7 linked regions of the Homo sapiens genome follow. The protein of the gene in region 6 interacts with the protein of the main gene of each other region in a pairwise test. Each region holds a gene or a part of one and is shown on either strand. Other genes may lie near its edges. The genes, in order: SOX7, RYR2, MTMR10, CXXC5, PPIL4, SMAD5 and BCAT1.

Region 1 (4,244 bases), on a different chromosome or scaffold from region 6:
TAATCCCAGCACTTTGGGAGGCTGAGGCGGGTGGATTACCTGAGGTCAGGAGTTCGAGACCAGGCTGGCCAACATGGCGAAACCCCGTCTCTACTAAAAATACAAAAAAAAAAAAAAAATAGCTGTGACAGTTTTAAGTAAGCAAACGAGTAGACAAAACTTACTTTCCTTCTTCAGACAGCCTCATAGTCACCTCATTCCACTTTACGAGTGTAAAGTCGTCACAAGGAGAAAATTGTTCTACATGTAGGTCATGAGTTGACATTTTCTTTCATTGTCAATAAAAACAGCAGATTCCAATGCGTAAAATTTGGATTTATCTCTTTAGCATAACTCATAAAATAAAATAAACCATCCCTACCAGATAACAACTTTTTAAAATAAAAAAGTCGATGTAGAAAACATGTTGATCAATACCACAAGTAGCACCCGATGTAACATTTATGTCTTGCTTGGAAACCTTTTCTTTTTGCAAAACTATATTTCAAAAGATAGAACAGTCATGGTACAAAAATGTTTATTTAAATTAAATATTTGCAACAAATTAATATTGACAACTGTTCCAAAGTATGAGTTGTTCTTTCAAAAAAACGAAACAGTTTAGCTTAATGTCTGTGATACTGTTTTATGAGATTATTCATACATGCTCTGGACTGCGCATCAGTCAATCATATCATCAACAATTTACTATTTATTACCAAATGGCATATAAAGTAATAGCATAAAGAGTAATCATACCTTATAAGTGATTTTACAATAGGACATCTTAGAAGGACAAAAAGGATTTATCAACAATACAAAACATAAGATAAAAATAATAGGAGATTATATAAAACATATTTCATACAGGAAATAATATGCTAAAATCAAAAAACCAACAACTGTCTTTCAGCACACTGTTATGCATGCTCCTTTAAAGGAGGTTTGGGGGAAAGATGAAAATATTTTGGGGGCAGGGGTCCAGGGCTCAGAAACATTTTTGGAATCACAGTGAGTTTCTGATTTGCGGGAAGTTGCTCTAAAGCACTGGCTGAGGACTTTGCCTGAGGACCTGGCTGGTGAGGAAGACAAATTCTCACAGCAGCTAAAGGAAGCATGCTTGGGATAAGTCAGGGGCTGTTTCAGTTAGGGACCAGTTCAGCAGTGGAGGAAGAGCAGAAAGAAGAGAAAAAGAAATCCCAGAAAAGAGAGTAAGGAAGCTGGAGACAGCCGGGAAGGAAGCACCTTTTGAATCTACAGAGGGGAAAGTGTGTATCCAGATTTGAAGACAGTGACTTTGCTTGGTTGCAAAGTCCTTTTAGGTACCCTGGGTCTTTGGTCATTAGAAACAGGGAGTTGGCAACAAGTTGTCATTGTTAATAAAAATATCTGATTTAGACTTTGAGTTTAGGAGTTGCATGAAGTGGGCATGTGTCTCTCACACTCCTGGTATACATTCAGACTGTGCATATTCTTTTTTTTTTTTTTTTCTTGAAATGGAGTTTCACTCTTGTTGCACAGGCTGGAGTGCAATGGTGCAATCTCAGCTCACTGCAACCTCCACCTCCTAGGTTCAAGACATTCTCCTGCCTCAGCCTTCCAAGTAGCTGGGATTACAGGCATGCACCACCACTCCCAGCAAATTTTGTATTTTTCATAGAGACAAGGTTTCACCATGTTGTCTAGGCTGGTCTCAAACTCCTGACCTCAGGTGATCCACATGCCTCGGCCTCCCAAAGTGCTGGGATTACAGGCGTGAGCCACCGTGCCCGGCCTAGACTGTGCATATTCTCTTGAAGTGTGTGTATAATAAACAAATTAACAAAAAAAAAGAACTGCTTTAAAATGTATATTTAAAATAAAATAGTTTTAACTCAATCCCATTTTCTGTGATATAGTTAGCCATACTGGTTAATTTCTCAAATCAGGTTGACTGTTTTTTCTCAAATTGTATGAGTCCCTTTGAAATTTTGTGGTCACTTTGGAAGGGGGTGCAGAAAGTGCAGAAAGCCTCGTGGTCCTTGGGCTGTGCACACAAAATTATCACCAGATCGTAGGTTAGCGAGCTCATTAATGAGTCAAATTTCCCCATCTTCCTTTATTAATCTTGAGAGAACCCTAAATCAGAAAACTGGACCAGAAGGGACCTTGGCTATCAAGTCTGTCCCCCCATTAGTTTCGATGATGGCTACCAAGAAAAGACGTCAGTGAACATTCCACTGGGAGACAGCAACTCTCAGGGGCTGGAGGAAAACTCACTTGAAGGAATATACTTAAAATGTGGGCTGCAGGGGCTGGAACGTGGGGAAGGGGATAGAGGCGGCACTCGGATAAGGAGAGTCCAGCTTAGGCCAAAGGCTCTGGGGCCGCAGTTCAGACCTCCCTGCCCTGAGCGGTGGGAGGAAAGCTGGTGTGGCTGGACGGCTCCTCTGCCACTCAAGGCACAAGAAGGAGAGGGCGCGAGGGCTGACCGGACGGGGCGCCTCCAGCTCTATGACACACTGTAGCTGTTGTAGTACGTGGCCGTGGCATCAGCCAGGACGGAGATGAGGCTGGTCTCTGTGGGACCCGTTGGTGTCACCTGGGAGACCGGAACATGCCCACTGAGGGCCATGGCCCCTGTGGCGGAGTCTGGGTGGCCAGGAGTGTTCAAATACTGGTCGAATTCATTGCGATCCATGTCCCCCAGGAGTTCCACCTGGCTCAGTTGATCCAGGGCGTCGAAGCCAGGGTGCTCAGGAGGCGGGGAAAGCTGGCCCAGGTGGGCTTGGAGGTTGGAGTGGAGTGGGTGGTAGGTGGCCGGGGAGTAATAGGCAGGAGATGGGGGACAGCCGGGTACAGGGGACATCATGGAGACGCCGGGGGACTGGCCAAGGGCCAGGGAGCCCAGGGGGTGGCTACAGTGGAGAGGGCTTGGGGCGTACTCCGGTGAGTACGGGTGCCCTGGCAGGTGGGGGATGCGGCGGGGATGGCCATGCTCCTCCTGGCAGGGGGAGGAGAAGAAGGTCTGCTCCGGCTCCAGCACGTCCAGGGGAGACATTTCAGGAGGTGTGGGCAGCCCGTACGGGTACGTGTCCACACTGCTCGGGGTGCCGCCGCCGCCACCACCAGCCGGCCCCTCGTGGTAGCAGCCCCGGAGGCTGGGCAGGGCAGTGCCGGGGGAGTACTCACCCCTGTCCTCCTTCTCCCCCAGCGCCCCCCGGCTGCCGCTTCTCTTCTCCGGCAGGGCGTTCTGGTCCCGGGAGAGGGAGCTCAGAAGGAAGCCCGGGTCCACGCGCTTGCACAGCCGCTTGGCCTGCTTCTTCCTGCGCGGCCGGTACTTGTAGTTGGGGTAGTCCTGCATGTGCTGCAGGCGCAGCCGCTCCGCCTCGTCCACGTACGGCCTCTTCTGGGACAGCGTCAGCGCCTTCCACGACTTTCCTGCTCACACAAGGCAGAGGAGGCCATGCTCAGTGCTGTGCCCCGCAGGCATCGCACATGCACACGCGTGCACACACACGTGCACATGCACACACACCTCCCTTCCCCCTCCCAGCCACAGAGGACACGGGCATCTCTTGCACCCTCTTCCCAGCCCAGATCCTGCAGGCACAGTGAAGCGAAATCAACCCCTCTGCTTGCATCCAGAAAGCCAGATCGTGCACGGTGCACACAGAAAGCATCACCTCTCATATAAAAGCCGCCAGAGCGTGCCCACACTACAATGCGGGGTCCCCAGTGAAAAGCCCACCTGACCATATGTCAGCTACGGGAAGAAAATATCTAATGATCACGATATTGATTGGGGCTCTTTTTACCCTTCCAGGGTCCATTCTAAACATTTGTGTATTCTCATGAAAATCTCTGCCTTCATTGATTAGTGCAGGCTAAAGAGATACTATCATATTTACCTATGGCATAAATCTCACAGCCCTTTCTGGGAGGGAACCCAGGCTCAGTCAATACTTTCACAGATGTCAGTAAATCAGAGATTCTCACTTAGGTTAACAAATACCTATTCCTTACCTCTGAAGGTCGAATAGAACCCTGCTGGATGACTGAGGCCAGAATGCTAGCATCTGCTTGCAACACATATACGCACACCCAGACACATGCATGCACACACATATACATGCAAACCGTCACTTCCAGCCAGCCATCTTTTGGGGACCCTTGACGGTGCCAGGGCACCTGCTTAGCCACAGATCTCCATGCAGAAGCCATTCCCTGCACTTTCCAGAGTCTCTATTTTCTTCAGTATAAAATAAAGATATTGTGACACTCTC
Region 2 (2,653 bases), on a different chromosome or scaffold from region 6:
TGCTGGTGAGGTGTAAGATGACGGAGAAGTCACCGGTACCCACAGCAGCACTTTGCACACAGCAAATGTTCAATTGGGTTTTGAATGTTTAATACACCACATGCTAGGGTACCGATTCTCTTTCATATTAAGACAGAAAATGAACTCCTATTATTATAGGAAATGAATTTGCCCTGAGCAAGGAAGAGCTTTCAAAAATGAGAGCTATATAAAAATTAAATAATCTGGGAGATAGCGATCTTTTTTTTCTGTCATTGGAGGTTTTCAAGAGGTCTGGCTGACCCATATAACAGGGAAATGACAGGGGTGGGCCAGGTGCCTGGTGACTCTGAGGCCCCACAATTATATACACAACAGTCTTAGAGGTACCAGGAAATCTGACAGCGTTAAAGGTCTCAGTGCAGTGTTTAGGATTGTCCTATATCCACCTCAAGTTAGAAGCTCAAGATTTTATGAGTCCCAGTTATAAGTTTTAAATGGAGAAAGAAGAGGATGAGAAAGTTAGTTAAATAGTTTAATCAGAGCGGTTTTACAGTTCTAAAATTAACAAGCAGACTTGTAATAAAAGAGCTCCAATGTTTGCAAAATGACCTTGTTTCCATTCTGAATCTGACTTTTTAATTGTAAAGGTTAGCATTACATTTAAAAGGACTCAAAATGGAAAAAATGGAGTGATGTATATTATCATCCGTGTTTTGTGATGCAACTGATGAAATCCCTGAATGGATATTGCTTCAGCTTTGATATTAAAAAATGGCCTGACAAGAAGTCCTTAATCAACAAAACTGATCACAGGTGGCTGAAAGAATGAGCAAAACCCAAAACTACTGTCAAGTTCATATTGTATCACATTGTTGGTGGATGACACTGGCTCCAGATATACAATTAAGCCCACGACACTTTATTACTATGAATAATTATCATGAAATTTCTCTCACGTTGATCAACTTGTTTCTGAAGGTTTTCTTTGTTCATTTAAACTTGCATAATAAACATGCAATGAATGGTTTCTTTTGAAAGTGTATTTTTTGCAGTCTTTTTGTTTTCATACAAAGATTTCATAAAGTTGCAATGTTGCATCAGAGCATTACCAAAATAATAGCAGGAGCATATGGGGGCGGGGGCGGGGGGGGGGGGCAAATGTGAATTTAGCTGAATGAGAAGAGCCTCCTTTTGTCCTGAGACACACCACCCGTTTTTTTTTTTTCTTTTTAAGTGCAAACTGCTTTTCTTACCCTCCCCCACTAAAGAAAAGACTAAAGGAAAAAAAAAAAACCTCACAAAATCAATCTAAGAAAAGAAAGGTCGACATAAAGAAAATAAAGATGTTTTTTCATGCACGTATCTTCTGCATAGCTCAACCCACATATAGTAAGGCACTATTTCCCTTCGCAACTGGTGTCCATGGCAATCTGTTAAGTGCTACAGTGCTCTGTGACCATTAGACAGACAGTTTCCTTCCAGGATGGTGAAATAAAGAGGCTGGGTGAGTGTGGCTGCCACGTGTCTCTGTGAAGGTCTCGTAGCTCGAGAAGACTCCGGGAGTCTCAGAAGAAAATCTATCTATGTGTGTTATGACAGTGTCCAGAATGGTTTTCTTTCCAGAATTCCTTTTTTTGTCTGAGTATGAATTTAGATTATTCTTCAGTCTTTAGTCTCAAAGTAAATACAAAAGGTGGGGGGAGGAAACAGCTCTTCCGAAACAGAGCTTCGATGCTCCCAGAAAACACACAACGCTGGCAATTCACAAAATCAGCAAAATGTTTCCAAGAGAGCAGAGAAATTGAGAGAGGGAGAGAGAGGGGTAGGGTTTTGGTTTTTAGAGGTGATTGGGTCTGAGTTTAATTTAGCTGGTCTTCATACTGTTTCCGGAAGCAATCCCCTGCTGGGAAAAATTCCCAACACCTTTCTTGATACATCTTCCAGACATAAGATTCCTGCAAAAGTCAAGGAAATGTATTAACATTTTCCCCAAAGTGTGTGCTAACAAAACATAAGGTAGAAACTCAATTCTGTTACCTATATCGCACGGAATAGAGAAGTCCACATTAATTTAGATGGTTCCTAACTAACTATACCAGACCTTAACGTCTCATAATAATCTTCATCCTGACCATTATAATGATAAAAATATGTTGGCTGGGCACACTGGCTCAAGCCTATAATCCCAGCATTTTGGGAGGCTGAGGTGGGAGGATCGCTTGAGTTCAGGCATTCAAGACCAGCCTGAGCAACATAAGAGATCTTGTCTGTACTAAAATTAAAAAAAAAAAAACACAAAAAAAAGCCAGGTGTGGTGGTGCATGCCTGTAGTTTCAGGTACTTGTGGGGCTGAAACAGGAGGATTTATTGAGCCCAGGAAGTCAAGGCTGTAGTAGGTCCTGATCATGCCACTTGAACTTGGCAAAACAGCAAGACCTTGTCTCAAAAAATATATGTGTGTGTGTATATATATACATTTATGCTTCTGAGGGTTCTCTTAAAATATCGTATCCTTCAAATTCAAACTACTAACAATCTGCACAGTGGAAGAGGAATTTCAAATAGCTTAAACACCTTAGGCATTTAACATGCATTGTACATAATACTTTGAAGTTCATTGGAAATCATCTATCTGATTAAACAAAGACATTATGCAATAATTAAGAACTCA
Region 3 (3,500 bases), on a different chromosome or scaffold from region 6:
GGGTGAAATGGCACTTTGGTTCAGAATGGTTTCAAGTTTGGCTTGAGACCCTGCTTAGTCATAAATCCTCTACATCAATGAATTGTGACCAGAAACTTCAAACTCGTGAAGGAAAATAATCTTGTTTTGTACAACTTTTTATCCTACTGACCTAGGAAATAAATGTCGTGTAACAGGGCTTTTGTTTTTTACTACCCAATAGCCCAAATGTGAAATATAAATACAAAAGCATGACATTTAAGGTGGTTAAAGTAATTTACATCTTTAAAGGGGTTTACTACAAAACATTTACATTAGAGTAAAACAAAAAATGTTCATTCATAAAAATAATTTCCTAGATTTTTGTGTCTTCAAAATAATCCATTCAGAAATTTCAGCTGAAAATGGCAGTAAGAATTTTAAATCATAAGATTTTAAATAGGCAGTGAATTATACTTCAATTATGCCTCGATAAAGTTGTAAAAACAGGGAAAACGTAGCCACAGCCACAGGGTTGCTTACCGTGCTTTGCTTCACTCGCTGGTGAGGGGAGTTGAACAGGAAGGTGCCAAACAGTGAGATCCGGGTGCTGTCATACAACACTGCCAGGTAGGTTTCGGAGAACTCAAAAGCTGCAGGATATTGTTCTAACAGCTGCCAGGTGGCATCCAAGAATAGCAAAAATAAAGGAGACTGGCAAATACAAAGAGACAATGGGATCATTTAATGTTATCCTTCAGCCGTTCACATTTACTTCAAAATGTACTGCTGATGTTAAAGAAGAGATGAATGAGAAAACATCGAAGCCTAAAACACTTGCCTTCTAAGCTGAGCTATACACATCTATCAAACCCAAGAAGTAACATTCAACCGTGATAAACATCACAACCCTTATTTGCCCAGTACATGTAACAAGTTGAAACAGCAAAGCACACAGTTGAGCGGGTTGCCACTATATGAAGGGGGAAGAGCAAAATATGTGTTTAAGCATGTCTTAGAAACAATTCTTTAGATTATATAACAAAACAAAACCATCAACCAAACTTCTCTAATGTTTGGTTGATCCTGTAGGCTCAGCATCCAGAAAACATCCCCATATTTCAGAAAACACTTTGGGATGAGCCTAGGTCACGTGGTGTGTCCCCAAGTGCAGTAGCGGGTGACCACTATTTTTTATGAGACACCACAAGTCAAATGGCGCTCTCTGAAACAACCTTCTAAAAACTGATCTGACTGACCTGCCTGGCCGGTAAGATATTTGTAAGGCCTTCCGCAGCCTAACTAGAGATCCGAGGCAGCCACTAACTCCACAGCTGTTGCAAAGGTGGCCCTCTCAAACTTTTCATCTTAACCTATGTATCCCATTTTAAGAAAATATGATATTCCAAAAGTGATTTTTCAAAATAGCCAATGTGCTTGTTATCTGTTTTTCAGTATTTTATTCAGAATTTTTTCAGTAGTTTTCCACTTAGACAAATTCAATAGACAACTTTTAAAAATTTCACCTTCATAGTTACGATAATCTTTATAATAAGTACATCAATTTGAACTCTAATCCATTAGTTAGCTTTGGACTAAGGAAATTAAGTTGTACTAAATACAGTATTTTTTAAAAGCCCCTTCATCTTTTAATGACACAAATTTTATTTTGTGTATCCTTAAAGACTGATAAAAAGGCATCAAGATTTTGTTACCTCTTTCTCTGATCTCTTTAGATGGTTGCATCTGTCTAGAAACTGATATCCTGCCATGACCCACTCCTTCTGTATCAGACTCTGAAATCCAGTAATTGTCCTAAAATAGGGATCCAGCATCACTTGAACAAGAGAAGCTACACAACAGCTCAAGTCTCTTCCTTCCTCCTCTGTTAATAAAATGGAAAGAAAATGATTACAACATAGAAAAATGCTGAGAGAGAAAGGGAAGGAAAGGTAAACTAGATAATTTAGTATTCTGCACACCTAGGCTGCCTTCCAAATCTGTATAAGGAAATTTTACTGGATTCCAGCAACTCTAAAATATTACAGACTTGTAGATAAACTAAATTAGCATTTAATAGGAGATGGTCTTTTATACATGGATATTTGCCAGATAATAGAAGCTCATCACTCATACTTTTTACATTCGAATGGTTTGTGGTAGAAAATCCGTCTAGACTCCATTCTACTGCTCTTTTGTCAAGGTATTAAGTATAAGGTAATCTTTCTACTGACAGGCCACATGGCAATACTGAGAAGTGAATGGGGAGAGTGGGACTGTTCACTACCAACTGAAGCTGTGGCAAACGATTCCCTCCTGTCTTTTATAGTTGTTGTCCTTTCCAATAAGGCCAGAATTGCCACGCTATCAAAGTCAGCCAGGGAAATCAGAAGACAACTATTGACCAATATCCCTTATGATTACAGATGTAAAAATCAATAAAAATATGAGTAAACCAAATTATCCAGGAATGCAAAGTTGGTTTAACATCTGTCAATTGTAGTAACGTACCACAGTAATAAAGGACAAAACCAACACGATTATCTCATTAGATGCGGAAAAAGCATCTGATACAATTCTACCTTCATTCCTGATTAGGAATAAAAGTAAACATATTTAAACTGATCAGAGACATCCACAAAAACCTACAATTAATGTTATTCCCATTTCACTGGTGAAAGACTGGATACTCTCTCCCTAAGATCAGGAAGATGATAAGGATGTCTGTTCTCTACACTTCTCCATCTCATTGAACTGGAGAATCTAGCCAGAGCAATTAGGCAAGAAAAAGAAAATAAAAGGCATTCAGATCAGAAAGAAAAAGGTAAAAACTGTCTTTGAAGACAATATGATCCTGTATGTAAAAACTCCTACGGAATCCACAAAATAACTACTAGAATTAATAAATGAGGTCAGTAAGGTTACAGAAATTCTGTACACAACAATCTGAGTACATAGTAAACCTGAAAATGAAATTAACAATTATATTCACAGTGACATAAAAATAAAATACTTAAGAGATTTAACAAAATAAATATAAGACTTACATAATAAAACACTGCTGATAAAATGAAAGATCTAAATAAATGAAGCAGCATAATTCATAACAGCCACAAAGTGGAAACAACCCAAATGTCCATCAACAGGTAAATGGGTAAGCAAAATGCATTTACAAACAGTGGAATACAATTCAGAAATAAAAAGGAAAAGATTGCTGATACACACTACATGAATGAACCTCAAAAACATGTATGTTGAATGAAAGAAGCCAGCGGCAAAAGGCCACATATTGTATGATTCCATTTATATGAAATGCCCAGAAAGGGAAAATCTAGAGACAGAAAGATTAGTGGCTGCCTGGAGCTGGGACTTTTGGGGTGATGAAAAATTTCCAAAACTAGACTCTGTATATTTACTAAAATTTACTGAATTACAAATTAAAAATGGGTGAATTCCATAGTATGTAAATTTTTAACAAACTGTTTAAAAATAAACGTATATAAAAATGCTAGTAAAATGAAGGTTCAGTGCTACTTCTGAGG
Region 4 (2,517 bases), 3.5 Mb from region 6:
GCCAGGGTGTGCACAAGCATGTCCTCTCACTGTGGCAGGGGACGGCTGGTCCTCTGGCCCTGTGCTGCTCGCCCTGTAGCAGGCGGGGAGAAGATCCCTGAAATAAGGGTTCTGCACTCATTGGCAAACTGGGTTACACAAAGGCAACCAGGTTCCTTTGCCTGCAGGACATGTCAGAGCCTTGAAATAACTGATGTGTATTAGTAATCCCCAGATGAGGATCCAGGGGCAGCCTTCCAGACTTAATGATCTGTACCATCAAGCACTCTTCTCCTCAGATGGAGAAGGAAGATTAGGATGTGGAGGTGGTTTTTTTCTTATTTTTATTTTTTTGACAGGATCTCACTCTGTCATCCAGGCTGGAATGCAGTGGCATGATTATAACTCACTGCATCCTCAACCTCCTGGGCTCAAGCAGTCCTCCCACCTCAGCCTCCTGAGTAGCTAGGACTACAGGCATGTACCACCACACCTGGTTAACTTTTGTATTTTTTGCAGAGATAGAGTTTCACCATGTTGTCCAGGGTGGTCTCAAAACTCCTGAGCTCAAGCGATCTGCCTGCCTCTGCTTCCCAAAGTGCTGAGATTACAGGTGTGAGCCACTGCACCCAGCTAATAAGCATCTCCAACACTCTCCCACCCCAGCACAAGAAGGACTGCCTGCTTCTGGCAGGTCTTCCTAGACCCTAGCAGAGCAGATTTGGGCTGTGGAGGCCTGGACTAGGGCCTCCACCATGCCGCTTGGTGGCTGTGTGTTCATAGACTGGTAGTTCTCCTAAATCTTGTTTCCCTCATCTATAAAGTAGATTACCAGCCACTGCTTCTAGAGTTCTTGTGGGTCTTAACTGAGATAGTACAAATAAGAAATTTCTCACCAGGATGGATCTGGTGCTTAATAAATGCCTGGTCAAGCACATGGTGGTCAGGATGACAGGACCGTTGATAGTGGCGGTGGTGGCGATGTTGAAGGGGGAGGTGTTCACTGCTGCCCTGACCCTGTATCCTCTTGTGACAGAGTGAAGACATTTCCACCTGGACACCTGACCATGTGCCTGCCCTGAGCAGCGAGGCCCACCAGGCATCTCTGTTGTGGGCAGCAGGGCCAGGTCCTGGTCTGTGGACCCTCGGCAGTTGGCAGGCTCCCTCTGCAGTGGGGTCTGGGCCTCGGCCCCACCATGTCGAGCCTCGGCGGTGGCTCCCAGGATGCCGGCGGCAGTAGCAGCAGCAGCACCAATGGCAGCGGTGGCAGTGGCAGCAGTGGCCCAAAGGCAGGAGCAGCAGACAAGAGTGCAGTGGTGGCTGCCGCCGCACCAGCCTCAGTGGCAGATGACACACCACCCCCCGAGCGTCGGAACAAGAGCGGTATCATCAGTGAGCCCCTCAACAAGAGCCTGCGCCGCTCCCGCCCGCTCTCCCACTACTCTTCTTTTGGCAGCAGTGGTGGTAGTGGCGGTGGCAGCATGATGGGCGGAGAGTCTGCTGACAAGGCCACTGCGGCTGCAGCCGCTGCCTCCCTGTTGGCCAATGGGCATGACCTGGCGGCGGCCATGGCGGTGGACAAAAGCAACCCTACCTCAAAGCACAAAAGTGGTGCTGTGGCCAGCCTGCTGAGCAAGGCAGAGCGGGCCACGGAGCTGGCAGCCGAGGGACAGCTGACGCTGCAGCAGTTTGCGCAGTCCACAGAGATGCTGAAGCGCGTGGTGCAGGAGCATCTCCCGCTGATGAGCGAGGCGGGTGCTGGCCTGCCTGACATGGAGGCTGTGGCAGGTGCCGAAGCCCTCAATGGCCAGTCCGACTTCCCCTACCTGGGCGCTTTCCCCATCAACCCAGGCCTCTTCATTATGACCCCGGCAGGTGTGTTCCTGGCCGAGAGCGCGCTGCACATGGCGGGCCTGGCTGAGTACCCCATGCAGGGAGAGCTGGCCTCTGCCATCAGCTCCGGCAAGAAGAAGCGGAAACGCTGCGGCATGTGCGCGCCCTGCCGGCGGCGCATCAACTGCGAGCAGTGCAGCAGTTGTAGGAATCGAAAGACTGGCCATCAGATTTGCAAATTCAGAAAATGTGAGGAACTCAAAAAGAAGCCTTCCGCTGCTCTGGAGGTAACGGCGCCTTAGAGGGAGGTGTGTGGGCTCTTGTGTCTGTCTGGCAGTCCAAACCCACCCCCATCCCCTGACCCCACTTTTCCTACCTGGGCAAGTGTCTGGGGGATGCCCCCTCCCAGTCCTTGGGGCCTGGGGGTCTGGCTTCAAGACACCAGTTTACTGCCCCAAAAGTCAGAGCCACATTCTGAGAATCCTATCAGGCCATAATTTGCAAGGCAAGCATAAAACTCCAGGCAAGGACCTAGCATTCTCAGCCAGGCCCTGGGATTCTGATTCCTCTCCTGGGTTCTGGGTCAGGTATTGAGATTTCCATACAGGTCCTAAGTTTCTGATGCTCAGACATGGCCTAAAGCATCCAGTCCATGACCTAGAACTCTGGGTCTCTCCCCTGCCCTGTTTAAGGGATTCTGTTTCA
Region 5 (3,500 bases), on a different chromosome or scaffold from region 6:
GGTAAGCAAAAAAGACAAGATCAATCTATTTGGCAATTCCAGAGACTCCAGAAACAAAAGTGGCCAGCAATGTTTCCCATAAATGTGAAACAGTCTACTGCAAGAGTTAAAATAACTGGTAATGGTAACAAACAGCCATCATTTATCATTGAAAAATTATTTGCCATCTGCCTGCCATTAAAAGTCTCACTATGGATGAAGCAGTTACCGTATAACAGAAAGGGCACCAGATTAATGTAAGAGGTTCTTGACTGTAGTGGGAGGTCCTAGGTAAGACACCACTTCTCTGCAATTCATTATCTTTATTTACATTATCTTCATTTATAAACTGAAAATAATACCAACATTTCACAGAGTTGCTGGAATCATCAGACTATAAAGGAAAGTTCTTAGTGCTGTGAATGGCACATTATACACATTAAGTTTATAAATGTGAATCAATAACATATATAATTATCTCAAAATTAACTGAGAATAATAAACTGTATGTTTATGATGGCATATACAAAACCAAAGCTTCTCCCTCCTATGTGACATTTTATCTTAGGAAAAAACATGAAGAAATTTATTTAAAAGTCACAAGAAAGTAGTAGTATTTATTCAATGGGTGGATGGGTTGAGAAGAAGACAGGATTGAGAGGGTAAAAAACAAACCAAATGTAGGGTCTGTCTAAATCATCTGTGTATGTGACTCTAGGTAAATCACTTCTCAAGATTATGCCTCAAATTCCATATCTATAATGAGGAATTATAATATTTATTTCATACACTTCCCAAATGATACAATTAAACTAGCTCTTTGGAAGCAGAGCTCTACATAAGAGCCACCTGGCATTACTACTGGCCAGAACTACACTGCATCAGGCCAGCAGCTCACCAACACTTTGAATATACTTACTGGAATCTTTCATTCACAAAGTTGTAATTTTCATATGTGGAAAAAAATCTTAGTGCTTCAATTTAGGTTTCACAAATCACTCAAACAGCACTGTCAAAAACTAGCCATGTGTTCTAGGAGGAGGTAAGGTTTCACAGGAGAAACTAATAGTACATGGAACTCCAATCCAAGTCACCCTCTCCTTTATCACAGAGATCACAGCTTCCACTCAACATTCCTTGCCTACTTTAGTCACATTAATAATTTCTTCCTTCTCTGAACTCCCATAAGGTAACAGAATCCACCAAACAATTCAGCAATTCACAACTAAATAGTGTTTTTCTTTCTTACTAAAAACAGACAAAAAAAACAGTTCATTAAAAGCATGGGAAATAAGTGTTATAGAAAAAGAAAGTAACCCTGAAATTCCCAGTAAAATTTAGCATTACATGTGAGTAACTATCAAAGTGAAACCTGTTAAAAACACTGCATCAAAAACCAAAAACTCGTATTATTTCAACATATGAGAGACCCAACTTTTAAGACTGACATGCTACGAGCAATGTATTTGACATATATGTATGTGTATGTGGGAAATGTAATATGTACAAAGGTGGAACATACTGCTATGGACATGGAAGAGTAAAAATTTAGAAAACCCATTAACAGGGCTGGTTCATTTTATATACTGATATGAACTGATCTCTTAGATACACTGTTAATTAAAAAATGCAAGGTACAAAAACAGTATGTATAGCCTGCATCCTTTGTTTTATATTTTCCTTTTTAAAAGGAGAAAATCATATATATATATATGCACATATGTATTCAAAAAATGTAGGGGAAAGTTAGTACCAATAGGTGATAATGGTTACCCTGGAAGAGAAATTAGATAGATGAGGAGCAGGAATGAATGAGACTTTTATCTACCTTTCCATGGACCTTTTCTATTTTGCATCATATGACAACTAAAACAAACAAAAAAAATTTAAGTTGTGCACCTAAAAGACTCAAAACACCATAAAGTCAAAATAATTACTTTGGAAACATATCATGTCTGCAGTGGGTAATTATTAGTAATTTATAATATAGTCAAACATAGAAAATATAATTTTTCATCAGTTTAAAATACACGCACAGGTGCACACATGCATGTGTGTGCACACACACACACACACACACTCTACCTCAGATTCTAGATAGCAGGTTTGTAAAATTACAAATGGCAGGAGTTACATCAATTAATATTTCTCCTAATTAACAGCACTCAATAAAAGGCTCATACAAGCATGAAAAGCATAACAAAAACAAGGCCGGGCGCAGTGGCTCACGCCTGTAATCCCAGCACTTTGAGAGGCCAAGGCGGTGGATTACCTGAGGTCAGGAGTTCGAGACCAGCCTGGCCAACGTGGTGAAACCCCATCTCTACTAAAAATACAAAAATTAGCTGGGCATGGTGGCACATGCTTGTAATCCCAGCTGCTTGGGAGGCTGAGGCATGAGAATGGCTTGAACCTGGGAGACACAGGTTGCAGTGAACCAAGATCGTGCCACTGCACTCCAGCCTGGGCAACAGAGCGAGACTCCATCTCAAAAAAAAAAAAAAAGCAGAACAAAAACAAAAGATAAACCATCATACCTTTTCCTTTCCATTTAACCTTTGCAACCGACTGGCTAAAATCCACATGTATTCTTCTGTCATCTATAAGCACATTGTCCATTTTGAAGAATGCTTTCTCACAATCTTCTTCCTGATAATAATTATAAAAACTCAAGCATAAATCTTTATGGAAAAGATTTCTGTAGCTAGAATACTGAAAATACAAAAAGTTTGTTGTTACAAAAATTAATGTTTGAATACTTATTACACACCCGATGCTGTTAAATGCTTTGTATCTATTACCTCAAATACCTCTGGTAACAACCCCATGAGGTACTATCCATTTTCTTAATGAGAAAACAGAAGTTTAGAGAAGTATAGAAGTTGTTGGCAAGGGTCAGAGCCAGGATTTTAGAGAGACAGTCCAACTGCAGTGAACAGATAAATATACACTTACTGACTGTATTATACAGGTTCACAATCCTTTTTACTCAAAATTCAAAAACATCCTGGAAAGTGAAAGTTGTGTTCCTAAGTTTGTTGTTAAAATTAATTTGGCAGTAACACCAAACCTAATGGTAGGTTATGACCTTTTTTTATCCACTTAGTATGAATATTCATTTGTTTCACTGCAGAAATACTTTTGTGACAGATTATGGAATGCTGACCCAGAAAGGTATTACATAATCACAGATGTAATGTGTATGTGTGTATGCATATATACAGTATTACCTTTCTGAATTCTGAAAAATTCTGAATTAGGAAGCCTAGTTATTCTCAAGGGTTTTAGATAATGAACTGTGAGACTGTAATACCAAGCTCTGTGCTACACAAGAATCCTTCCTGTCAGTAACTTCACAATTCTAAATCCCTGTTTCTGACACTGACAGTTACATATTTCAACTCAGTACTGACCAATTTTCTTTTACATTCCTGGAAACTTATTCTTACTAGAGATAATCCAAAGAGAAGCAGATAAAATAGTTATAATCATATTTATTACATGTCAATAATTAAATGAAT
Region 6 (3,500 bases):
TGCCATTTAGCCTATCACTTAGTTTTATCCTATATTTATTTCCATATGATAGCCAACAGAAATAGGGCATTAAAATTGAGTTTAAAAAAATGTACACCAAGCACAGAGAGCCAATAATTGAACAGACAGGAAGGTATGCTCCTTCTTACACTAGAAACTGGAGGGACTTAACAGCTATGAACCCATTATCTGCTATTATCTTGGCCTTTCATAGTATACCTTTGGTTTATGAAGACTTGACTTGATAATACCCTTTTATTGATGTATTTTGTCATTTCTTAGAGAAATGACCTCAAAGCTAGAAAGAAAACCAAGGTAATCATAATATTTAGAAATTCCTGTGTACGTGAGGTTCCCTGATTCTTCTGAAAAACTGCAACCACTGACTGAACACAGAACGTCATTAGTGTACCAAAAGAGATGCAGTGGTACCTCAGCCATAAATGAAAACCTTATAAAATTACGGTATATCATGAATTACAAATGAATCTATCACATTACAAAACACACACACACCTCACCTCTCTTTCAGCTCAAGCATCCCTTCTTCGGGGAAGTCTTCCCAAACCGTCCTGGCTAGAAGTCCCCCTCTTATATGCTTACCGCATCACATACTCCTACTTTGTAGCACTTACCACACCTATGTTTTTACATTTACCTTTCAAATCTGTCCCCACAAGAATGTAAATTCCACGAGAAGAGCTGTATCTGTTTTCACTCATCACTGTAAGCCTAGTGATACATATGCTCAATAAATATTTGTTTAATGAAAGAAAGGGTTTGTGATATTAGCTCTGGTGGTGGGGTTAGGTGTACTTTTCACTTTCTGCTTCATCTAATTCTATATTTTTTAAAATAAACATATTTCTTGAAGAGTCAGAGGAAAAACAGGTTTCAAAATTAAAGTGCAGCTATACCTCAGCCATATTATGAACCCTTACTAAAGAGAGGATTTACATTATCATGAGTCATTCCTGCTTCAAAACAATTCTCTCTAATATACTTGGGGTTATACAAATTTGGAGGTTGAAACTAAGAAAAATCAAATCAGAAACTAGGTACAAATACTTCCATAACTATAGTACTCTAGGTTAATCAACAGAAATACAGAAATGATTATCATAAGGTACACCTACTTCTTTAAGTATATGTGCATTAACTGACTCAGCAGCTATAACAGCCATGAATCATTAAACACTTATTGAGCACCTACTAACTAGCAGACATTGTAGGACATGCAGGGGTTTATCAGCACTAGCCAAGGGTGAAGGAATAAATGAGAAGGCCTTTTTCTAAGTCCCATACAAAGGTACTATATGAGTGAAGAGTGGGAATAGCAAAAATGCAAACGGGACAGAATCTCCCTTCACAGAATAACGTAGCACGACAGACACCAAACTATACCCCTATATGTAAGTACAATGAGATAAACTCAAGTTACTAGAGGAACACAGAGAGACAGAGAAAGGGCATGTAATCCAGGTATCTAGCACTTTTCACAGTGTGTCCTGTTACTACAAATGAGCTGTTGCTCCTCAAAACAATGAAATCAAACTCCAGAAGCATTATTCCTGCTCCCAATAAATATTAGTAAGAACTCATTCTTCAAAAGCATTTATCTTCCTATACTGGAATGTCTTTTGAACCTCAGATATTACAAATGCCATTTTCTGCTTATACCACTTTTCTTAATCCCTGGCCACTAATTTTTAGCTCTATCGTTATTTAAGTCTCAGCTTTAGCTCTCATCCCAGATACCTTCCCTGATCACCCCATAATCCTATATAGAGTTTCCCTAATCTCTAATCCAATACTATGTTCATTTTCTTCACTGTATTAACTGATTCATAATAATTTGTTCATTTACTTTATTTCTGTCTCTCGCACTAGAATATAATCTTTAAAAAACAGTACCACATACATTACAATAACTTGTCAAATTCATTCAAGTCATTCATCCAAAAGAATATTTATTAAGATAGCATTTTAGGAGCTGGGAATATAGAAGTGAATAAAAGGAACCAAAACACTTGTCTTCATTTAGCTTATATTCCAGCAGAAGGAGGCCAACGAGATATAGTAAATGATATGTTTGTTAGGTGAAAAGTGCTATAGAGAAAAATTAAAACAGGGGAAGGTGGACAAGAAGTCCTGGAAGAGAGGTGTAATTTTAAACAGGGTGGCTGGGCTGGGTCTCACCAAGAAGGTGCCAACTGAGTTAAAATGTTAAGGAAATAAAAGAGTGAGCCAACAGGCATATATCTAGGGGAAAACCATTACAGGTAAAGGCAACAGGCAATGCAAAGATCCTAAGGTAGGAGCATGTCTGGCATGCTTCTGGCATGAAGAGCATATACTGGCTAGAAGACCAGTATAGCCTGAGAACACAGTGTACGAGGGGGAAAAGGTAAGGAGTGGGGTCAAAGAGATACCAGAGAGCCAGAATGGCCATGCTGGATATAAAGGCTTTAGCTTTTACAGTACTCTAAGGAAACTGTGAACTCAGTGGAGAGCTCTGAGCACAGACATGATAGTTCTCGACTTACACTATTAAAGAATTATCCTGGGCCGAGGTGGGCAAATTACCTGAGGTCAGGAGTTCAAGACCAGCCTGGCGAACATGGTGAAACCCCGTCTCTACGAAAAATACAAAAATTAGCTGGGTGTGGTGGCATGTGCCTGTAATTCCAGCTACTTGGGAGGCTGAGGAAGGAGAATTGCTTGAGCCCGGGAGGCAGAGGTTGCAGTGAGCCAAGATCATACCACTGCACTCTAGCCTGGCCAACAAAGCTAGACTTCATCTCAAAAAAAAAAAAAAAAAGAGTTATCCTGGGCCAGGCGTGGTGGCTCATGCCTGTAATCCCAGTACTTTGGAAGGCCAAGGCAGGAGAATCACTTGAGCTCAGCGGTTCAAGCCTAGCCTGGGCAACATAGTTTTTAAAACTCCATCTCTACAAAAAAAAATTGTTTTTAATTAAAAAATTAGCCAGGTGCAGTGGCACATGCCTGTGATCCCATCTACTTAGGAGGCTGAGGTGGGAGGATCACTTGAGCCCAAGAGGTCAAGGTAGCAGTGAGCCAAGATCATGCCACTGCACTCCAGCCTGGGTGACAGCACAAGACTCCGTCTCAAAATAAATAAATAAATCCTGGCTGGTATGTTGAGAATAAGCAGGAGGAGGGGTGGACAGCAATGATAAAAGCAGCGAGACCAGTTCAGAGATGCAGTAATCTAAGGGAGGGGAGAAGATGACGATGGCTTACAACCAGGGTGATAGCAGTGGGGTGGTGAGCAGCAGACATATGAAAGACAGTAAGCTTCCTGATGAAGGAGATCATGGGGTGTATGAGAACAAAGGAGTTAACAATGATTCCAAGGTATCAGCCTGGACAACTGGAAGAATGGGGTTTGACATCAACTGATTTGGCAAATGCAGATAAGAAAGCTAAAGGAAGATTCAGGGTTAAGTTTTATACACATTAACCATATGAATAAAATG
Region 7 (3,500 bases), on a different chromosome or scaffold from region 6:
AGGTTGCCAGCTTCTTTAAATGGCCTCTTCTCAACTGGTATAGGAAGTTGGAAAATAAAGAACTTTCTTTATTTCCCTTTAGTGTTGGTAACCACAGTTTCTTTAAATAACAGATGCCCACCCCAGGGAAACCCAGTGGCATGATCAGCCTTATGCTCAGGAAGGTTTGGTTGCTATACTGGAGAGTGAGAATCTGGGACCTTCCATGATAGACATAATTGTGCCAGCTATCCTCTACTTTCTATATGATGCTATCATTCTTTTTTCTTTTCTTTTTTTTGACAGAATCTCACTGTGTTGTTCAGGCTGGAGTGCCGCAGAGTGATCTCTACTCACTGCAACCTCTGCCTCCTAGGTTCAAGCAATTCTTGTGCCTCAGCCTCCTGAGAAGCTGGGATTACCACCATGCCCAGCTAATTTTCGTATTTTTTTGTAAAGACGGAGTTTTGCCATGTTGGCCAGGCTGGTCTGGAACTCCTGGCCTCAAGCGATCTGCCCATCTCGGCCTCCCAAAGTGCTGGGATTACAGGCATGTGCTATCATTCTTTTTGAGCACAGGAGGAAACTATGGCTGATCTGCTCATTTTACTGTCAAAAATATAGGCAGCTTTTGTATTGTAACATTATCCCCTTAACAGCTGTCCAACTGGTCTATACATTTCACCTAACATATGGTAAATGTTCCTACTGTTGGCCTTTCCTGAGCCTCTGTCCATTCAACTAAGGCCACTGCAATGGGATTGTATGCAGTTCAGCCAAGAAATAAATGTGAGGTGCAACTCACATTTTTTAAATGTTTCAAAATTAAGCATTTAGGTGCTTTTATTCATAAACATGACTTTGCAAATATTGGTAAACAGTTTCATCATAAGACCTTGTCAGTGACTCACAATGTCAATGGTGAACGCAAAGGAGAATCTGTCTTTTCTGGAACACCAGGTTCAGGTATCAGTTTCAACTATGCTTATAATTTGTGCTCTAAAGTCCACAAAGCTAAATTATCTTTCCCCTAAAAATTGAGTACTCATATCCTTAAAATAGCTTGGAAATTAGATTACCTTATGAATACAGCATAGCATGTCACATAAACGTTTTTCTACTGTTATACCTTTTTGGTGGGAAAGACTATTTTGCAAAACATTTTTCTTGTGTTCAGTAATTAATGGGAAAAACAAACTCTAAAAGAAAGAGACAGTTATGTCCCAAAAATACAGGAAAATGGAAGAATGGAAACAGGGAAGACCAATAAAGAAAAAAATAGAGGAAATTACAAGTAATAAACTGAAGTCATACTGAAAAACATATGGCTCTTTCTTATTGAAAGTTGTGAAATACTTGCAAAACTCAGCTAGTTCCATTAAGAATAGTCTTTAATCTAAAAAGAACAAATTCATTTGTCAGTTCTTTATTTCGGTGTGTAGATTTGAATGTTTCATCAATTGCATTTACGGTTTATCCCTCAGTGTGAGAACTGTTTTTGCTGTTTTGACTATAAATGGATATCTGCTTTAGGAAGACTTAGGAAGCCTGGGACATAGGATTACAGATCAAATTCTATTTGACTCCATAGAAGTTGAGACGGAAGGAGCACCTGTTGGGATATTCTAGACCAAACATTCCACAGCTGTCTCTTAACGTGACTGACAAAGAGACACAGTTGAGACGAAGTTTGGGTATATCCTGGGATGAGGCCAAGGGTGGATTTGCACAGGATGGTCACAGGGCAGTTGTTAGCATTCCACCACTACATAAAAGGGTGATTTTGCCAAGTGCATTTCATTTCATTTCAGTTGATTTAGATACCAAGTTATATTGTTTTGACTTTAGGACTAGATGTGAGTTCAGGAATTTGAAATCATAATAAATGTTTCCTTGAACTTTGAAGATAAAAGGTAGAGTTAAAAGACAGCTGCGAAGTCTACATGGGGAAGCATAATACATGACTCAGGGTTCCATGGTTTTCAGTGTCGGTGAGTGCTCTGTACACTTATAAGAATAGTGCTGGTGTTTATAGAAGAAACACATGCAGGTTTGAGGCAAGACTTCCTTGCTTAATTGGTGCTTTTGCTTTCCATTTTCTAAATGCCATGCAAACTACTTTTTTTTTTTTCTTTTGTTGAGACGGAGTCTTGCTCTGTCACCCAGGCTGGAGTACAGTGGTGCGATCTCGGCTCACTGCAAGCTCCGCCTCCTGGGTTCACGCCATTCTCCTGCCTCAGCTTCCTGAGTAGCTGGGACTACAGGCGCCCGCCACCACGCCCGGCTAATTTTTTGTATTTTTTGTAGAGACGGGGTTTCACCATGTTAGCCAGGAAGGTCTTGATCTCCTGACCTCGTGATCTGCCCGCCTCGGCCACCCAAGGTGCTGGGATTACAGGCGTGAGCCACCGCTCCCGGCCTCAAACTACTTTAACTGAAAACATTCTTCTAAGGAAAGCATCAGAAAACTTACTAGAATTGCTTAAGAATAAATAAATAATACAAATAAAAGAGCAAAATGAGAAAGTAGACAGACTCCTAGTCTATTGTGCTATTGATCTCTCCAGGTTCTAGGCTTTCTTGGGTCTGACACCACTTTGTAAATTTTTTTTTTTTTTTTTTTTTTTTTCCAGATAGGGTCTCATTCTGTCACCTAGGCTGGAGTGCAGTGGTACAATCATGGCTCACTTCAGCTTCAACCTCCTGGGCTCAAGTGATCTTCCTGCCTCAGCTCCCTGAGTAGCTGGGACCACAGGCATGTGCCACCACGCCCGGTGAATTTTTGTATTTTTTGTAGAGATGGGGTTTCTCCATGTTGCACTGGCTGGTCTTGAACTCCTGGGCTCCAGTGATCCACCCACCTTGGCCTCCAAAGTGCTGGGATTACAGGCATCCGTCACTGCACTGGGCCAGTTTGTAAATCTTATGAAAAGTATGGCCAATCTTTTGCAAAATGTGCAAACACATATAGACACAAAGTTTTATATCTAAATTATTGGTTATTAAAGCCAGGACAATAGAGTGCATATAGCATGGAAGACAGGTAGAAAAGACTGAAATGGTTTAGTTATTCAGAGCAGTGGAGGGCTATTGGCTCTTGCCTTTGCAGTCAGCTGAGATATGAAACTATATAAGCAGAAGCTTCACGCTGCCATTTGAATATTGAAAATCTCCACTTTTAGTTCAAGAGATAAACAACCAATGGTTTGTTTGTTCACAGCACATAAGTTATCACTTTCTTCTCTGTTTCATCCCATCAAGATCTAAGGTGTATAGTTACAGAATAGAACTCGGTTCATACCATATGCACCCTAATTTCTTCGATCTTCAACTAGTTTGGAAGTGTGTGTGGGTGTTTTCTTAGCCAAGGTTAATATGCAATTTCTTAGTGGAGTGTAGGAGTTTGGGGTGCCTAGCCTTCCTACTTCCCACTTAGATAACTTCCCCTACCTGTTGTACCTGTCAAAGGAGAAGGCCAGTATGGCCATGTTCTTTGCAGGTGACTCCACCTTAGCCACAGC

The links.
Region 1: the proteins of SMAD5 (region 6) and SOX7 interact in a two-hybrid assay, tested with the Homo sapiens proteins (one large-scale study listed by BioGRID and IntAct).
Region 2: the proteins of SMAD5 (region 6) and RYR2 interact in a two-hybrid assay, tested with the Homo sapiens proteins (one large-scale study listed by BioGRID and IntAct).
Region 3: the proteins of SMAD5 (region 6) and MTMR10 interact in a two-hybrid assay, tested with the Homo sapiens proteins (one large-scale study listed by BioGRID and IntAct).
Region 4: the proteins of SMAD5 (region 6) and CXXC5 interact in a two-hybrid assay, tested with the Homo sapiens proteins (one large-scale study listed by BioGRID and IntAct).
Region 5: the proteins of SMAD5 (region 6) and PPIL4 interact in a two-hybrid assay, tested with the Homo sapiens proteins (one large-scale study listed by BioGRID and IntAct).
Region 7: the proteins of SMAD5 (region 6) and BCAT1 interact in a two-hybrid assay, tested with the Homo sapiens proteins (one large-scale study listed by BioGRID and IntAct).

Annotation. Positions count from the first base shown.
Region 1 is NC_000008.11:10,723,268-10,727,511, forward strand, and holds the end of SOX7 (transcription factor SOX-7), read right to left. Parts: intron 3,400-4,244; coding exon 2,471-3,399; 3' UTR 501-2,470; downstream 1-500. UniProt on the Homo sapiens protein: Binds to and activates the CDH5 promoter, hence plays a role in the transcriptional regulation of genes expressed in the hemogenic endothelium and blocks further differentiation into blood precursors.
Region 2 is NC_000001.11:237,831,836-237,834,488, reverse strand, and holds the end of RYR2 (ryanodine receptor 2), read right to left. Parts: intron 1,938-2,653; coding exon 1,842-1,937; 3' UTR 501-1,841; downstream 1-500. UniProt on the Homo sapiens protein: Cytosolic calcium-activated calcium channel that mediates the release of Ca(2+) from the sarcoplasmic reticulum into the cytosol and thereby plays a key role in triggering cardiac muscle contraction. Aberrant channel activation can lead to cardiac arrhythmia.
Region 3 is NC_000015.10:30,946,629-30,950,128, forward strand, and holds part of MTMR10 (myotubularin-related protein 10), read right to left. Parts: intron 1,844-3,500; coding exon 1,674-1,843; intron 673-1,673; coding exon 502-672; intron 152-501; coding exon of another isoform or gene 98-151; exon of another isoform or gene 1-97.
Region 4 is NC_000005.10:139,679,349-139,681,865, forward strand, and holds part of CXXC5 (CXXC-type zinc finger protein 5), read left to right. Parts: intron 1-498; exon of another isoform or gene 499-592; intron 593-1,015; 5' UTR 1,016-1,175; coding exon 1,176-2,099; intron 2,100-2,517. UniProt on the Homo sapiens protein: May indirectly participate in activation of the NF-kappa-B and MAPK pathways. Acts as a mediator of BMP4-mediated modulation of canonical Wnt signaling activity in neural stem cells.
Region 5 is NC_000006.12:149,518,544-149,522,043, forward strand, and holds part of PPIL4 (peptidyl-prolyl cis-trans isomerase-like 4), read right to left. Parts: intron 2,629-3,500; coding exon 2,517-2,628; intron 1-2,516. UniProt on the Homo sapiens protein: PPIases accelerate the folding of proteins. It catalyzes the cis-trans isomerization of proline imidic peptide bonds in oligopeptides.
Region 6 is NC_000005.10:136,139,345-136,142,844, reverse strand, and holds part of SMAD5 (mothers against decapentaplegic homolog 5), read right to left. Parts: intron 1-3,500. UniProt on the Homo sapiens protein: Transcriptional regulator that plays a role in various cellular processes including embryonic development, cell differentiation, angiogenesis and tissue homeostasis.
Region 7 is NC_000012.12:24,942,602-24,946,101, reverse strand, and holds part of BCAT1 (branched-chain-amino-acid aminotransferase, cytosolic), read left to right. Parts: intron 1-3,500.